Homo sapiens: one gene and its partner. The protein of the gene in region 2 purifies or fractionates together with the protein of the main gene of each other region. This does not show direct contact. Each region holds a gene or a part of one and is shown on either strand. Other genes may lie near its edges.

Region 1 (7,383 bases), on a different chromosome or scaffold from region 2:
CCCAGACCTGACCCAAACCCAGCTCCCCTGCTTCTTGGCCACGTAACCTGAGAAGGGAATCCCTCCTCTCTGAACCCCAGCCCACCCCAATGCTCCAGGCCTCCTGGGATACCCCGAAGAGTGAGTTTGCCAAGCAGTCACCCCACAGTTGGAGGAGAATCCACCCAAAAGGCAGCCTGGTAGACAGGGCTGGGGTGGCCTCTCGTGGGGTCCAGGCCAAGTAGGTGGCCTGGGGCCTCTGGGGGATGCAGGGGAAGGGGGATGCAGGGGAACGGGGATGCAGGGGAACGGGGCTCAGTCTGAAGAGCAGAGCCAGGAACCCCTGTAGGGAAGGGGCAGGAGAGCCAGGGGCATGAGATGGTGGACGAGGAAGGGGGACAGGGAAGCCTGAGCGCCTCTCCTGGGCTTGCCAAGGACTCAAACCCAGAAGCCCAGAGCAGGGCCTTAGGGAAGCGGGACCCTGCTCTGGGCGGAGGAATATGTCCCAGATAGCACTGGGGACTCTTTAAGGAAAGAAGGATGGAGAAAGAGAAAGGGAGTAGAGGCGGCCACGACCTGGTGAACACCTAGGACGCACCATTCTCACAAAGGGAGTTTTCCACACGGACACCCCCCTCCTCACCACAGCCCTGCCAGGACGGGGCTGGCTACTGGCCTTATCTCACAGGTAAAACTGACGCACGGAGGAACAATATAAATTGGGGACTAGAAAGGTGAAGAGCCAAAGTTAGAACTCAGGACCAACTTATTCTGATTTTGTTTTTCCAAACTGCTTCTCCTCTTGGGAAGTGTAAGGAAGCTGCAGCACCAGGATCAGTGAAACGCACCAGACGGCCGCGTCAGAGCAGCTCAGGTTCTGGGAGAGGGTAGCGCAGGGTGGCCACTGAGAACCGGGCAGGTCACGCATCCCCCCCTTCCCTCCCACCCCCTGCCAAGCTCTCCCTCCCAGGATCCTCTCTGGCTCCATCGTAAGCAAACCTTAGAGGTTCTGGCAAGGAGAGAGATGGCTCCAGGAAATGGGGGTGTGTCACCAGATAAGGAATCTGCCTAACAGGAGGTGGGGGTTAGACCCAATATCAGGAGACTAGGAAGGAGGAGGCCTAAGGATGGGGCTTTTCTGTCACCAATCCTGTCCCTAGTGGCCCCACTGTGGGGTGGAGGGGACAGATAAAAGTACCCAGAACCAGAGCCACATTAACCGGCCCTGGGAATATAAGGTGGTCCCAGCTCGGGGACACAGGATCCCTGGAGGCAGCAAACATGCTGTCCTGAAGTGGACATAGGGGCCCGGGTTGGAGGAAGAAGACTAGCTGAGCTCTCGGACCCCTGGAAGATGCCATGACAGGGGGCTGGAAGAGCTAGCACAGACTAGAGAGGTAAGGGGGGTAGGGGAGCTGCCCAAATGAAAGGAGTGAGAGGTGACCCGAATCCACAGGAGAACGGGGTGTCCAGGCAAAGAAAGCAAGAGGATGGAGAGGTGGCTAAAGCCAGGGAGACGGGGTACTTTGGGGTTGTCCAGAAAAACGGTGATGATGCAGGCCTACAAGAAGGGGAGGCGGGACGCAAGGGAGACATCCGTCGGAGAAGGCCATCCTAAGAAACGAGAGATGGCACAGGCCCCAGAAGGAGAAGGAAAAGGGAACCCAGCGAGTGAAGACGGCATGGGGTTGGGTGAGGGAGGAGAGATGCCCGGAGAGGACCCAGACACGGGGAGGATCCGCTCAGAGGACATCACGTGGTGCAGCGCCGAGAAGGAAGTGCTCCGGAAAGAGCATCCTTGGGCAGCAACACAGCAGAGAGCAAGGGGAAGAGGGAGTGGAGGAAGACGGAACCTGAAGGAGGCGGCAGGGAAGGATCTGGGCCAGCCGTAGAGGTGACCCAGGCCACAAGCTGCAGACAGAAAGCGGCACAGGCCCAGGGGAGAGAATGCAGGTCAGAGAAAGCAGGACCTGCCTGGGAAGGGGAAACAGTGGGCCAGAGGCGGCGCAGAAGCCAGTAGAGCTCAAAGTGGTCCGGACTCAGGAGAGAGACGGCAGCGTTAGAGGGCAGAGTTCCGGCGGCACAGCAAGGGCACTCGGGGGCGAGAGGAGGGCAGCGCAAAGTGACAATGGCCAGGGCCAGGCAGATAGACCAGACTGAGCTATGGGAGCTGGCTCAGGTTCAGGAGAGGGCAGGGCAGGGAAGGAGACAAAGTCCAGGACCGGCTGGAGGGGCTCAACATCGGAAGAGGGGAAGTCGAGGGAGGGATGGTAAGGAGGACTGCATGGGTCAGCACAGGCTGCCAAAGCCAGGGCCAGTTAAAGCGACTCCAATGCGGAAGAGAGTAGGTCGAAGGGGAATGGTAAGGAGGCCTGGGGCAGAGTGGTCAGCACAGAGTGGCTAAGCCCAGGGCCAGTTGAAGCGGCTCCAATTCGGAAGTGGGGTGGTCGAAGGGGAATGGTAAGGGGGACTGGGACGGGGTGTCAGCATAGGGTGGCAAAGCCCAGGGCCAGGAACGACGGGGCGGATCGAGACTGGCAACGGGGAAGGAGGATGCCCCAGGTGGCGCAGCAGAGGGTGGACCTGGCCCCGGGAGACGCCGGGCGGGGGGCGCTGACCTGGTGCAGGGCGCTGATACCGTCGGCGTTGGTGGAGTCCAGCACGGCGCGGGCGGGCGGCGGCGCGGCGGGGTCGAGCTCGGCGCCGGGGCCAGGGTCGGCGGCGCGCAGCATCAGACGCGCCTCGTCCAGGTCGCCGCCCGCACAGGCCGCCAGGAACTCGGCGGCGCGCTCGAAGCGGACGGTGCGGGCGCGGCGCTCTCCGGGGCCAGGCTCGGCGCCCGCCCGCGCCCCCCACTGCCGCAGCTGCTCCCGTCGCCGCTCCCGGGCAGCCGCCGCCGCCGCCCCCGGGCCAGCCGCCGGGCCATCCTCTCCGGACATCGCACCGCCCGCCCGCCCAGCGAGCGAGCGAGCGCCGAGCCCCAACCGCCGCCACCACCCGCCCGCCCGCCCGCCCCGGGGGCCGCCGGGAACTGCCGCTGGCCCCCCACCGCCCCAAGGATCTCCCGGTCCCCGCCCGGCGTGCTGACGTCACGGCGCTGCCCCAGGGTGTGCTGGGCAGGTCGCGGGGAGCGCTGGGAAATGGAGTCCATTAGCAGAAGTGGCCCTTGGCCACTTCCAGGAGTCGCTGTGCCCCGATGCACACTGGGAAGTCCGCAGCTCCGAGGCGCCCAGTGGAAATCGCCAGATGAGGGCCTCCTCCGGGGAATGCTGGGAAATGGAGTCTACAGGCCGGAGGGGTGCCCCACGGCATACTAGGAAGTGTGTAGCACCGGGTAAAGGGGATGAATAGCAGACTGCCCCGGGGCAGTTAGGAATTCGACTGGACAGCCGCGTGGGAGGGAGTGCGGGGAGAGGCAGAGTTGTTTTGTTATTGTTGTTTTATTTTGTTTTCTTTGTTTTGAGACGGAGTCTCGCTCTGTCGCCACGCTGGAGTTCAGTGGCGCGATATCGGCTCGCTGCAACCTCCGCTTCCCAGGTTCAAGCAATTCTGGCTCAGTCCCCAGAGTAGCTGGGATAACAGGCGCGCGCCACCCCGCCCTGCTAATTTTTATATTTTTAGTAGAGACGGGATTTCACCATGTTGGCCATGATGGTCTTGATCTCTTGACCTCATGATCCGCCCGCCTCGGCCTGTAATCCTGCTGGGATGACGAGCGTAAGCCACCATGCCCAGCTGGGTTTTATTTATTTTGGTTTTTTTCCTGACCCCTTAACTAGAAATAAGCTCCACGAGAGCGGGATCTTTTGTCTTCTGTGCACTACTTGTCCTCGGTTCTTAGAACAGAACCTGAGAGAACCTGATCGCAAATATTTTTGGAATGAATGAATGAATGGGTTCACCAGGGCACCATGGGAAACTGAGTCCGCAACCTAGAAGCCATGAAAGACAGTCCACTTCCAAGCTTCCCTGGGTGACCTCGCAGGGCATGCTGGGAAATGAAATTTGCGGTGAAAAGGTCAGGACCACGATCCTAGGGCACGCTGGGAAATGTAGCCCACAGGGCCACACCCCTAAAAGCACAGTGGGGTGCAAGGCAGGGCCCCAAGGCATTTAGGGCTCGGGGCAAGAGAAATCCACACTCCACTCCCTAATGGTAATCCCTGAGCCACACCGAGTAAAGGAACCCAAGACACAGTGTCCACAGGGACAGGGCTCTCAGAGCTTTCACTGGCCCGCGCTTCTCCTGCGCCCACCCGGACCTCCTGGGAACCGCCCAGGCCCTCGCGCGCTCTCAAGGCATGCTGGGATTGGTGGTCCCGGGCAAGGAGTTCCAGCAGGTGGGGGGCGAATCACCTTTCAGCGGGCCCAAGCGATGAGCACACCTTGATCTTCACCTTACGGATCCCGCGCCCAACTCAAGATTGGGAAGGTGGCTGGCACTTTGTGACAGGAAGAGTCCCATAAAAATCATACAGAAAAGGGCCAAAATCGGGACAGAGACTACAGACTGTTTCCCAAGCGCTGTGGGAGTTTCCCACCCACTCTGAAGTCCTTGGGTTTGCGCGGAGACGTAAACTGCGCATCCCACGAGGCCTGTTTCTTTCCCTCTCTCTTTCTCTTTTGTTGTTGTTGTTGCTGCTGCTGTTACGAAAATTTTTGTGGTTTTATTGTATCATGAGGCATTGAAACATCCGGCGACTCAATGTCTAGGCGGTGAGGCAGCCGCTTTCTCCTTCACTTTCTTTGGGTTAAGTAGAGCAACTTGTCAGTAGTTTTGTTTTTTTTTGTTGTTGTTGTTGTTTTTGAGACGGAGGCTTGCTCTGTCGCCCAGGCTGGAGTGCAGTGGCGCGATGTCGGCTCACTGCAAGCTCTGCCTCCCGGGTTCAAGCGATTCTCCTGCCTCAGCCTCCTGAGTAGCTGGGACTACAGGCGTGCTCCACCACGCCCGGCTAATTTTTGTTTTTTAGTAGAGACGGGGTTTCACCATGTTGGCCAGGCTGGTCTCGAATTCCTGACCTCGTGATCCGACTGCCTCGGCCTCCCAAAATGCTGGGATTACAGGCGTGAGCCGCCGCGACCGGCCAGATTTTTTTTTTTTTTAAAGGACAACCTTTTGCATTACTTAAGTCTTTCCAAGGCATGCGCTGGTACAACACAAACTTTTCCCATTACATGCAGCTAGTCTAGTGTCCAGACGTCATGCACAACACCTCCGTGGCATCAGCGCACTGCGCCCACTCCCACTGCGACCCTGCTCATTTGTGCATCATATCTGGAGGAGTGGCAATAGTTCTGGAAAGAGGAGGGAAGAGGAGGCAGCGTGAGGGCCCGGTGGAGAGGAGGTCAGCTGAAGTTGTGCAGAGCAAGCCTGCATATCATTGGTGCAAACCCAAGCATCATTGCATCGCTGATGTTTTGTTTTGTTTGGTTTTGTTTTGTTTTTGAGACGGAGTCTCACTGTGTCGCCCAGGCTGGAGTGCAGTGATGTGATCTCGGCTCACTGCAACCTCCGCCTCCCAGGTTCAAGTGATTCTCCTACCTCAGCCTCCCAAGTAGCTGGGATTACAGGCGTGCTCCACGCCTGGCTAATTTTTGTATTTTTAGTAGAGACAAGGTTTCACCATGTTGGCCAGGCTGGTCTCGATCTCCTGACCTCAAGTGATCCACCCGCCTCAGCTTCCCAAAGTGCTGGGATTACAGGCATGAGCCACCACACCCAGCTGATGTTCTTTAGTAGGAATATCTGGTGGAACCCCAAGATGGGGTCTTCATCCGCCACGAAGCCTGTTTCTATAGAAAGGGATAGTTCTGGTGGCTCTTAGGTGTGGTCCCTGAACCCCACACTTTCCACATACTTACACACCAACCTCCTTCCCCCAGGAAAACAAGAAGTCGGTCTTCAGGGTGTTACCGTGTAGCTCTGGTTCTGTATGTATTCTGTGCCTTTATGTATAATTGTGTGTATTTGCAATCATGTCTGTGGCTGGATGTATGTTGTTTATGAGTTTGTGTTTATGGTTTGTTTTTGTTTGTTTGTTTGTTTGTTTTGAGATGGAGTTTCACTCTTGTCATCGCCCAGGCTGGATTGCACTGGCGCAATCAAAAAAGAGTAAAATAACAGAAATCAGAATGGGCTTATAATACTCTTACCCCTCTCCACACAGGACAGAAGAGTCAATTTTATACTTTTGTGGATGTTCTAACTTCACCTGCTTATCTGAACCATCTTTATGGTGCAGACTAATATCTATTTTTCTGCTGTTACAGAAGAAGTGGGAACATTTTCTTCTTATCTTTCTGAGGTTATTTACACCAGTGAGGAGGGCCTGCAGTTCCAAGGTTAAGCACCAACATTCCACTGTTACCATTGAGAGCAAAGAGCAGACCCTAGAAGTGAAAACAAAACCTTTACCACAGGAAGACAAGAGCAAAAGATGATGTTCTTGAGTGGCATATGAAGATGCTCACAGCCAACATCACATGCCTATCAGATATTTTATGTACATCATCTCATCAACTCCAGGAGGCAGAGACTAAGAGACTAGCCCCAGTCACAGAGCTAGAAATTGGCCAAGACAAGGTTCAATCTGAGGACTGTCAAATCCAGAACTGGAATTTCTTTTTTTTTTTTTTTTTTTTGAGATGGAGTCTCGCTCTGTCACCCAGGCTGGAGTGCAGCGGCATGATCTCAGCTCACTGCAACCTCCACCTCTTGGGTTCAAGCGATTCTCTTGGGACTACAGGTGCACGCCACCACGCCTGGCTAATTCTTGTATTTTTAGTAGAGACGGGGTTTCACCATGTTGGCCAGGATAGTCTCAAACTCCTGACCTCATGATCTGCCCGCCTTGGCCTCCCAAAGTGCTGGGATTACAGGCATGAGCCACTGCACCTGGCCTTAGAAGCCTCAGTTCCTGATGGCAGTTGGGATCTGCCTTTCCTTCCCTGGACTGCCTACCTCTTGTCTTTTAGGTTACATATGAGAAAACAAACCTCCAATTCACCAAAACTATTGTTATTTGGGGAGCTGTCTCTTACTATCAGCCAAACATAACTCCTCAATGACACTGTTAGTTTAGCACTGCCATTATAATCAGGAGGGATCTGGGTCCAGCTGCGGGAACATGAAGAGGCACTAGTGGGATGACCACAGCCAGCCCCTGTTGATTCACCAGGAGACTGCAGATGCATGAGCAAGTCCAGCCAAGATCAGCCAGACAAGAACTCCCAGCGGAGCCCAGCCCAATTTGCCAACTCTCAAACTATAATTTTTTTTTTTTTTTTTGAGACGGAGTCTCGCTCTGTCTCCCAGGCTGGAGTGCAGTGGCGCGATCTCCCCTCACTGCAAGTTCCACCTCCTGGGTTCACGCCATTCTCCTGCCTCAGCCTCCCGAGTAGCTG
Region 2 (7,021 bases):
AATATTTCTGATCAAATAAATATTGCCCAGAAAAGACGTTCAATTCCTCAGTGAATAAATGCAGGAATGGATGAGTGAATGCAGGTATGCGTGGATATATACACACAACACATGAATTGATTAATTCATGCATGAACACAGAGCTCTCCCATTCATATCATCAAAGCCCAGAGGCTGACTCTCAGCTGCCCCACTTGGTCTTATTAAGCTTCAGAGGTTTCTATCTCATCTTGGCCCTGGCCATTCAAAGCTTCTTTTCTTATCCACAGCAGCCGCGCTTCCATTGTCTTAAGGGGCAGCAGGCCATTTCCCCTATGCCCCTCTACTCTGAGCCCTGGGAGCTCACCAGATTCCCAGCCCTCTTGGAGGAGGTCGGCTGACCCTGGTGCCTGGACCTCTTCTCATTGTAAGACATTTTTACAGGAGCCTTCTATGGGAATTGTCAGCATTCCATTCTCCCAGAGAGTGGGCTGTGAATTTGGCCCGTTTTTTATTAATTGCAAATTAGTGCTGTGCTTGGTGTCTATTTTAGTAGACATGCTTCCAGAGTACGGAATGCAGCCCAAAGCAGCACATTGCTCTCATTCTTTCTGCTGACCGACTGTGTGAATATTTTTAGAAACCACACCCTCTCGCAGTGCCAGATAAATAATTTCCAATGCCAGATGTGTGCTCTGCAAATCAACATCAGGCAGGGAAGGGGAGAGGAATGAGCTACATGGCTCTCCCCACCACTGCAGCGACATGTGACAAGTTTAAACCAGTAGCATTTATATAGGCTTCCTAGGCCAAAGTCCTCCACCCTTGAAACGTGGAAAATGGATCCACATTTAGAGAAGCACCAGAGGGGGCTCCAAGAGAGGATCTTGCTGCTCATGTCCCGCTGGTTCGTGGCTCGTGTGTCTGTGGTCCCCCAGGTCCAGACACGGATGGCAGGGGCTCTCTTGAGCACAGAGGCCGGCTTGTGGCCATGTATCTGCCTGCCTTTGCCAGCATGGGTCCTTTCTAAATATGTTTCAGCAAAATGCTGAGTCAGGAAGAGTTGAGAATATACCACCAGAAGACAAATCAAGACCAGCTGAATCACATTTTTTTAAAACCTTGGAAGTGGATGGGAGATGATGAAAAGATAATTTGCCTGGAAGTCAAACACATGAGTTCTAATCCTGGCTCATCATTCCTTTATTCCAAAATCAAACCATTTTGAAGTACCTACTGTGTGCCAAGCACTAGTCTACACTCTGGGGAAGCAAAGACACAATAATTTAGTCCAGACTGATTCACTGTGTGATCGTGGGCATTATCCTCTAGACTTTCTGGGTCTAATCATTAAAACAAGGGGTTGGAAAAATGACTCCCAAAGTTCTTTAAAGATGTAGGATTCTCAGACCTAAGTAGGATTCCTTGAACAAAGAGGAAAGGAATTTAAAAGTGTTGATAATGGGAAGATCTGGTTTCTCTTTGGGACGTATGTGTGCATGCACACCCGTGCTTTACCTTGGGAAATGCCAGGATTAGAAATTCTTAAGGAAAGGTATATGCCTAAGCCTTAATTGATAATACTGCTTTGTGTGTGTGCTCTTTCCCTCCATCATGCACAGGCACCCTAGGTTGAAGAACTTGGTGCAGGGGAACTGTCAGGCCCAACATCATTGCCCTTTTGCTTACACAAATGAAGCCATTCTCCTGGGCTCCTGCCTCACTGTTTCCCTGCACAATTGCTTTCAGAATTCTAATCATTCTTTTCCTCCATTAGGGAATTACATGATTTCATAGAAAGCTATGTGTCTTATCACTTCTGGGAATACATCATGGGACCAAGAGGTCACACTGCACCATAGAACCCAACCCCTAGGCAAGAGGCTTACATTCCAGGCCTTGTAAAGATGACATTTAGTTTTGAGAGCTCTGGGGGCAGGTGGCAGGAAGGATCTGGAGAGGAAGTCAATAAGGTTGATGACACAAACCCTTAGAAAAATGTGGTGGCCCTCAAACCAAGACCAATTTTTCAGCCATGGCCTGACCACCACTCCCCAGGACCTAGGTAGGCACCTTCAGAGCAGCTGACTTCCGGTTCAATTCCCTCTCCAGTGGCCAGCCACTTAAGAAGGCTCCCAGTATAGTAACAGTTAAGCATGAATTGCTTTGATTGTAGTATTGTCTAAAATCTTCACGTTTATTATTGACTCTCCAGGACTGGGCACAGGGCATTGCACACAGTAACAGTTCAGAAAATACTCCTTGAAACAAAAATGAACAAATAAACAATAATCTGCAGAGACAGGAACTGGCAACTCTTGACAGATGAGGAAACTAAAGCCTAAATCATCAAGAAACTTACCCCAAATCCTGCCATTACTAAGGGGCAGGGTTGAAATATCTAACTCCAAAGCCACTGCTTTTAACTTTGACTCATTTGGACACGAGTGCTTAGCAGTTTACAAAACTAAACACAGAGTGTCTCATTCACTGCTCTAAGCAGGCCTGTGAGTAGTACTGTTACCCCGTTTTACAGCTGAGGAAACAGGGTTAAGTGGTTTTCCCAGTGTCAAGAAGCTAGTAAGCCATACAGCCCGGAATTTCCTAACTCTACAACCAGTGCTCCTTCTAGAATAATCCAACCACTTTGCCAGAAATAGACCCTGCGATTCCACTTCCTATTCCCATGGAGAACTACTTTGACCAACTATTTCCTGCTTATTCTATAGACTACATGTGACTACGGTCAAACACTCTGCAAGAGCAAGAGGTCACTGGGTCATGGCTTCCAGGGGCCTCTCAAAGGATGATGGTGACTAATGGTTGCTGCCATGATCTGTACAGAGAATCCCAACACCAAAGCAACTCCATCCTTCCAAGCAAGGAAACAAGTCTCATCACACGCTCCTCCACTGATAGCAGCAACAACAAAAAAATCATTCCCATGCTTTGCCCAGGGACCAGGGATAAGCCACTAACGTCACCAGCGGCCAATTGGAGGGCTCCTGCTGGTGCCGGGAGTACTAAGGCCGTTTCATAATGAAACCCATGCAGCGAGCTCCGTTTATTTTGAAACCGTATTTGCTTATTTTGTAGACGTGGTCAAAAGGACATTCAGAGGGCTCCCTGGGAGGCACTTGAACCCTGTGGGCCAGGAGAACTTTCTCCAGCTCCAGCAGCAGCCAGCAATAATACTCTCCGTGCAAGTAAACTCCAGCACTTGCTATTTCCCAACAGCAAGCACCATCCCCATTTTAGTCAGCTTCCCAGGTCTATGGCTGGTTTCAGGGGTGGGAAGGTGGAGAGGGAGAAGTAGGAGACAGGGTGGAGAGTGACAAAGAAATAGCCAGGCAAAGAGTTCCAGCTCTAAAATAATTTAGGATCCTGCTAGCAAATCAAGCAAAGCGACTTGAATTTGGGCTCGTGAAATCAGACAGACATGGGTTCAAATCCCAACTCTACTCTTTACCACTGGATTACCTTGGGCAAATTACTTAGTTTTTCTGTGCCTCAGTTTCCCTATCTGTGAAATTATGTAAATAACAGTACCTACCTTGTAGAGTTGTTGTAAAGATTGAATTTAAGTGATAGCAGGCAAAAATATAAAATACATATGAAATATGTATTGGTTGCTAAAAGTATTGTTATGGTGATGATTTTAGACTATGAGCTTCCTGAGGAGAGACACTGTATCTCAGTCATCTCATCTTACCCAGGGAGGAAGAACAATGCCCGGCATATAGTAGGAGATCAATAACTGCTTGTCGCATTTAATTGTTTGAACTGGACTTGGAGCTCAAGCAAAGAGACTCTTCCCCACCAGCCTGCCAGGTAGGAAGTGGCTGCCTTATTTCCAGGCTGCGGCTTGGAGCAGGTTAAGCCTCCATCCGGCTGCAAGACCCAGGCCCTGCATATCAATCGACGACGCAAGGGCTTTACCTTAATATTGCAGTTGTCATCGAGCAGTATATTTTCCAGCTTCAAGTCCCGGTGGACCACACCGTTCTGAAATGAGAAGACAAAGAGGGAATTGAATGGGAGCGGCTGGGATGAGAACAAGAGAGAAAGAGGAAGGAGGAGGGTGAGCAAAGGGAAATGTCTGACAGATTAAAGAAATGCACCAGCCCGGTGGTCTTCACCTCCATCCTTCAGGCTGCTCTCACTGTCTTGACGCTCCCCCGCCAGCGACCAACCAGCGACAGGAGAGCATTAGTCACTTGCTGTGTGGTTAAGGGAAAAATGACTGGAATCTGTTCTCCCCCAGAGCCTGTAAAACAGCAGGGGGATTCTTTGTCGGAATGTAATTCCACTGTGTGAAAGCAATATAATCCCAGGCAGCAGCAAACAATGTCTGTCTGGACGGGATTCCCAGGGAAGAAGCAGATTTCTCTACTGGGGACTCAAGATTGTGGGGCTCACAGGCACTCCTCATCTGTCTGTCTGTGTGCCTGCCTGCCTACTCAACGCTGGAAAGACATCTGGCTCAATCTATTCCGACCTGTTTTGATCTGTCCTGAGGATAACATTTCCTAAGCAACCTGGAGAGAAGACTCAGAAAGTCCCTCTCTGCTCAGCAGGACTCAGGGCTGGGTGAAAGATGAAGCATGAGAGCAGACCAATGAGACTGGGACCACTGGCCTGACCAAAGCAGGTGGCTGCCATCCTGCCTGACCTTTCCATTCAGGCAAACTCTGGCAAGGCTGGAGGCTGAACTTCAATGACCAGCAGCCAGCCAGCTGAAACGTGAAAAGCAGTCATCAGCCAATAGGCTGTCGGTCTACACAGCAGTAAACACTAGCCTTCTTCATTCTTTTTTAAGACCCGATTATCTTTTTAGGGGGTGGGTGGGCATGGGAAGAGCAGTGGGCCCGAAAGAACTGGCTATTTTGGGGTGAGTGGACAAGTAACAGGGGACATTGAATGATTCTGAACATCATTCAGCATAAAGGACATCTGCAATCGAAGCTGCTCTTTTGAGCAAACCAACAGGCATGTTTATGGGTGGTTCTTTCTTGTTTATTTTCCTTTTCATTTGACCATTCTTAATATCTCCAAAAGCACTGCTCAGAGGGAGAAATGAAAACATGTATTTCTACTAATCTTTTTCTAATTCAAGCCTGCAATGAGGTCTTCTGAATTCAGAAATGCACAAAACCGAGTCTGTTAGAAGAAAGATGTGGACTACAAGACACCTGATTCCATTAATTTTAAACATCAGGAGCAGTTTGGTTTACATTGCTGCATTCCTGGTTTTTGTAATAAGATGGAATGAGTCTAATAAAGCCTCATTCATACAGAATCCAAGTGTTCACACACTTCCAATATCAAAAATATCACCTCTGTGGTGATTTACAATGATACCTCATGATGAAATACAAAATATTATACGATTCAAATCATGAGCACATTTTGAGTCAACAAAGAGAGGTCAAATAATGTTCACATGAGTTAAGGGTTTTAGATTTGAGTAACTGTTCTCTAATTACTTACAGAGCCACTCTCAATTAAACATAATATTTAACAAACCAGGAGGCCCCATGTTGAGATCATTTATATGAAGAAGTTGACTCTGTTTTGGATGCCCTGTTGGACTCAAGTCACGTTATCCTCAAAGTAAATGACTGTTTAGGGTGTGACAGATCTGGAGAAAGTCTGAATGAGATGAAATTCATGGCCAAAGTGATGAATAACAATAATGGCTGAGACATGGCTTGTAGTTATCTGTGTACTTTATGCCTTTTCCAGAAACCAAGAGTGGCTCTACTGTGGCTATATTATTATTGTTATTATTATTATTTTGGAGATGGGGTCTCACTTTGTCATCCAGGCTGGAGAGCAGTGGCACCATCATAGCTCACTACAGCCCCAAACTGCTGTGCTCAAGGGATCCTCCTGTCTCAGCCTCCCAAACAGCTGGGACTACAGGTGCGCAACCTCATGCCTGGCTACTTTTTAAAAAAAATTTTAAAGATGGATCTTGCTATGTTGCCCTGGCTGGTCTTGAACTCCTGGGCTCAAGCAATCCTCCCCCCTCAGCCTCCCAACTAGCTTGGATTATAGGCATGAGCCTGTCTGCGGCCATCTTCTGAGCACATCCGTGCATGTAGGTAACCTATGCAAGAAAAGGCACCAAGAGCATAGAAAGGTTTCAAGAACATTTCTCCTAGTAATTCTACTTCTGGAATCTCTCTTAAGTAAATTATTCACATGAGAGGAAAATATTCATATATAAAGATACTGATCACTATTTGTCATAATCAGAAATTAGAAACAGTCTCAATGTCCAACAATCAAGAATTACAAAGAATTTTTAATAATATAGGAAAATATTTAGATTAAAGTATTAAGTAAAAAAGCATGACACAAACGATGTAAAAATGAATCCACCGTGGTACCCTAGATTGGATGCTGGAACAGAAAAAGGTCATTGGTGTCTCCATTTTGACAAATGTACCACAGAAATGTAAGATGTTAATATTAGGGTAAACTAAGAAAGGCATAGATAGGAACTCTCTGTACTACCTTTGAAACTTTCCTGTAAATCTAAAATTATTCAAAATTAAAAGTTTACATAAAAAAATAAATGTGAGAAGGAGGAGGAAGAAGACTGAAAGGAAACAAGCAAAAATGTCAAAAATAGATTATCCCTGGATTCCAGAATCACGGGTGATGGTAATTTTCTTCTTTCTAGTTCATAAATTCTCCATACATGCTCCCATGAACAGATATCACTTTTATAATAGGAAAAAAATCATGCAGTGCCATAAAAACCATCTACGGCCAAAGCTGCGGGCCAGGCGCAGCCATACCTTGTGACAATAGTGCACAGCAGAGACGATCTGCCGGAAGAAGTGCCGGGTCTCCCTCTCACTGAGGCGTCGCCGCTCACTGATGTAATCGTACAGCTCCCCTTTGCTGGCATATTCCATGATGATCACAATCTTATCTTTGTTCTCAAACACTGCAGAGGGAAAACAGCAATACACAAACACCCCGTTTAGCCAACAAGCTCACTTATGCTACAGAGAATGCGAGAGAGGAC

What was found. The genes of interacting proteins can lie anywhere in the genome.
Region 1: the proteins of NUAK1 (region 2) and PPP1R12C purify together in Homo sapiens (affinity purification with mass spectrometry; 2 studies listed by BioGRID and IntAct, with this or other methods). This does not show direct contact.

What each region holds. Positions count from the first base shown.
Region 1 is NC_000019.10:55,114,626-55,122,008, forward strand, and holds the start of PPP1R12C (protein phosphatase 1 regulatory subunit 12C), read right to left. Parts: upstream 3,013-7,383; 5' UTR 2,919-3,012; coding exon 2,598-2,918; intron 1-2,597. UniProt on the Homo sapiens protein: Regulates myosin phosphatase activity.
Region 2 is NC_000012.12:106,079,946-106,086,966, forward strand, and holds part of NUAK1 (NUAK family SNF1-like kinase 1), read right to left. Parts: intron 6,941-7,021; coding exon 6,789-6,940; intron 3,985-6,788; coding exon 3,919-3,984; intron 1-3,918. UniProt on the Homo sapiens protein: Serine/threonine-protein kinase involved in various processes such as cell adhesion, regulation of cell ploidy and senescence, cell proliferation and tumor progression. Phosphorylates ATM, CASP6, LATS1, PPP1R12A and p53/TP53.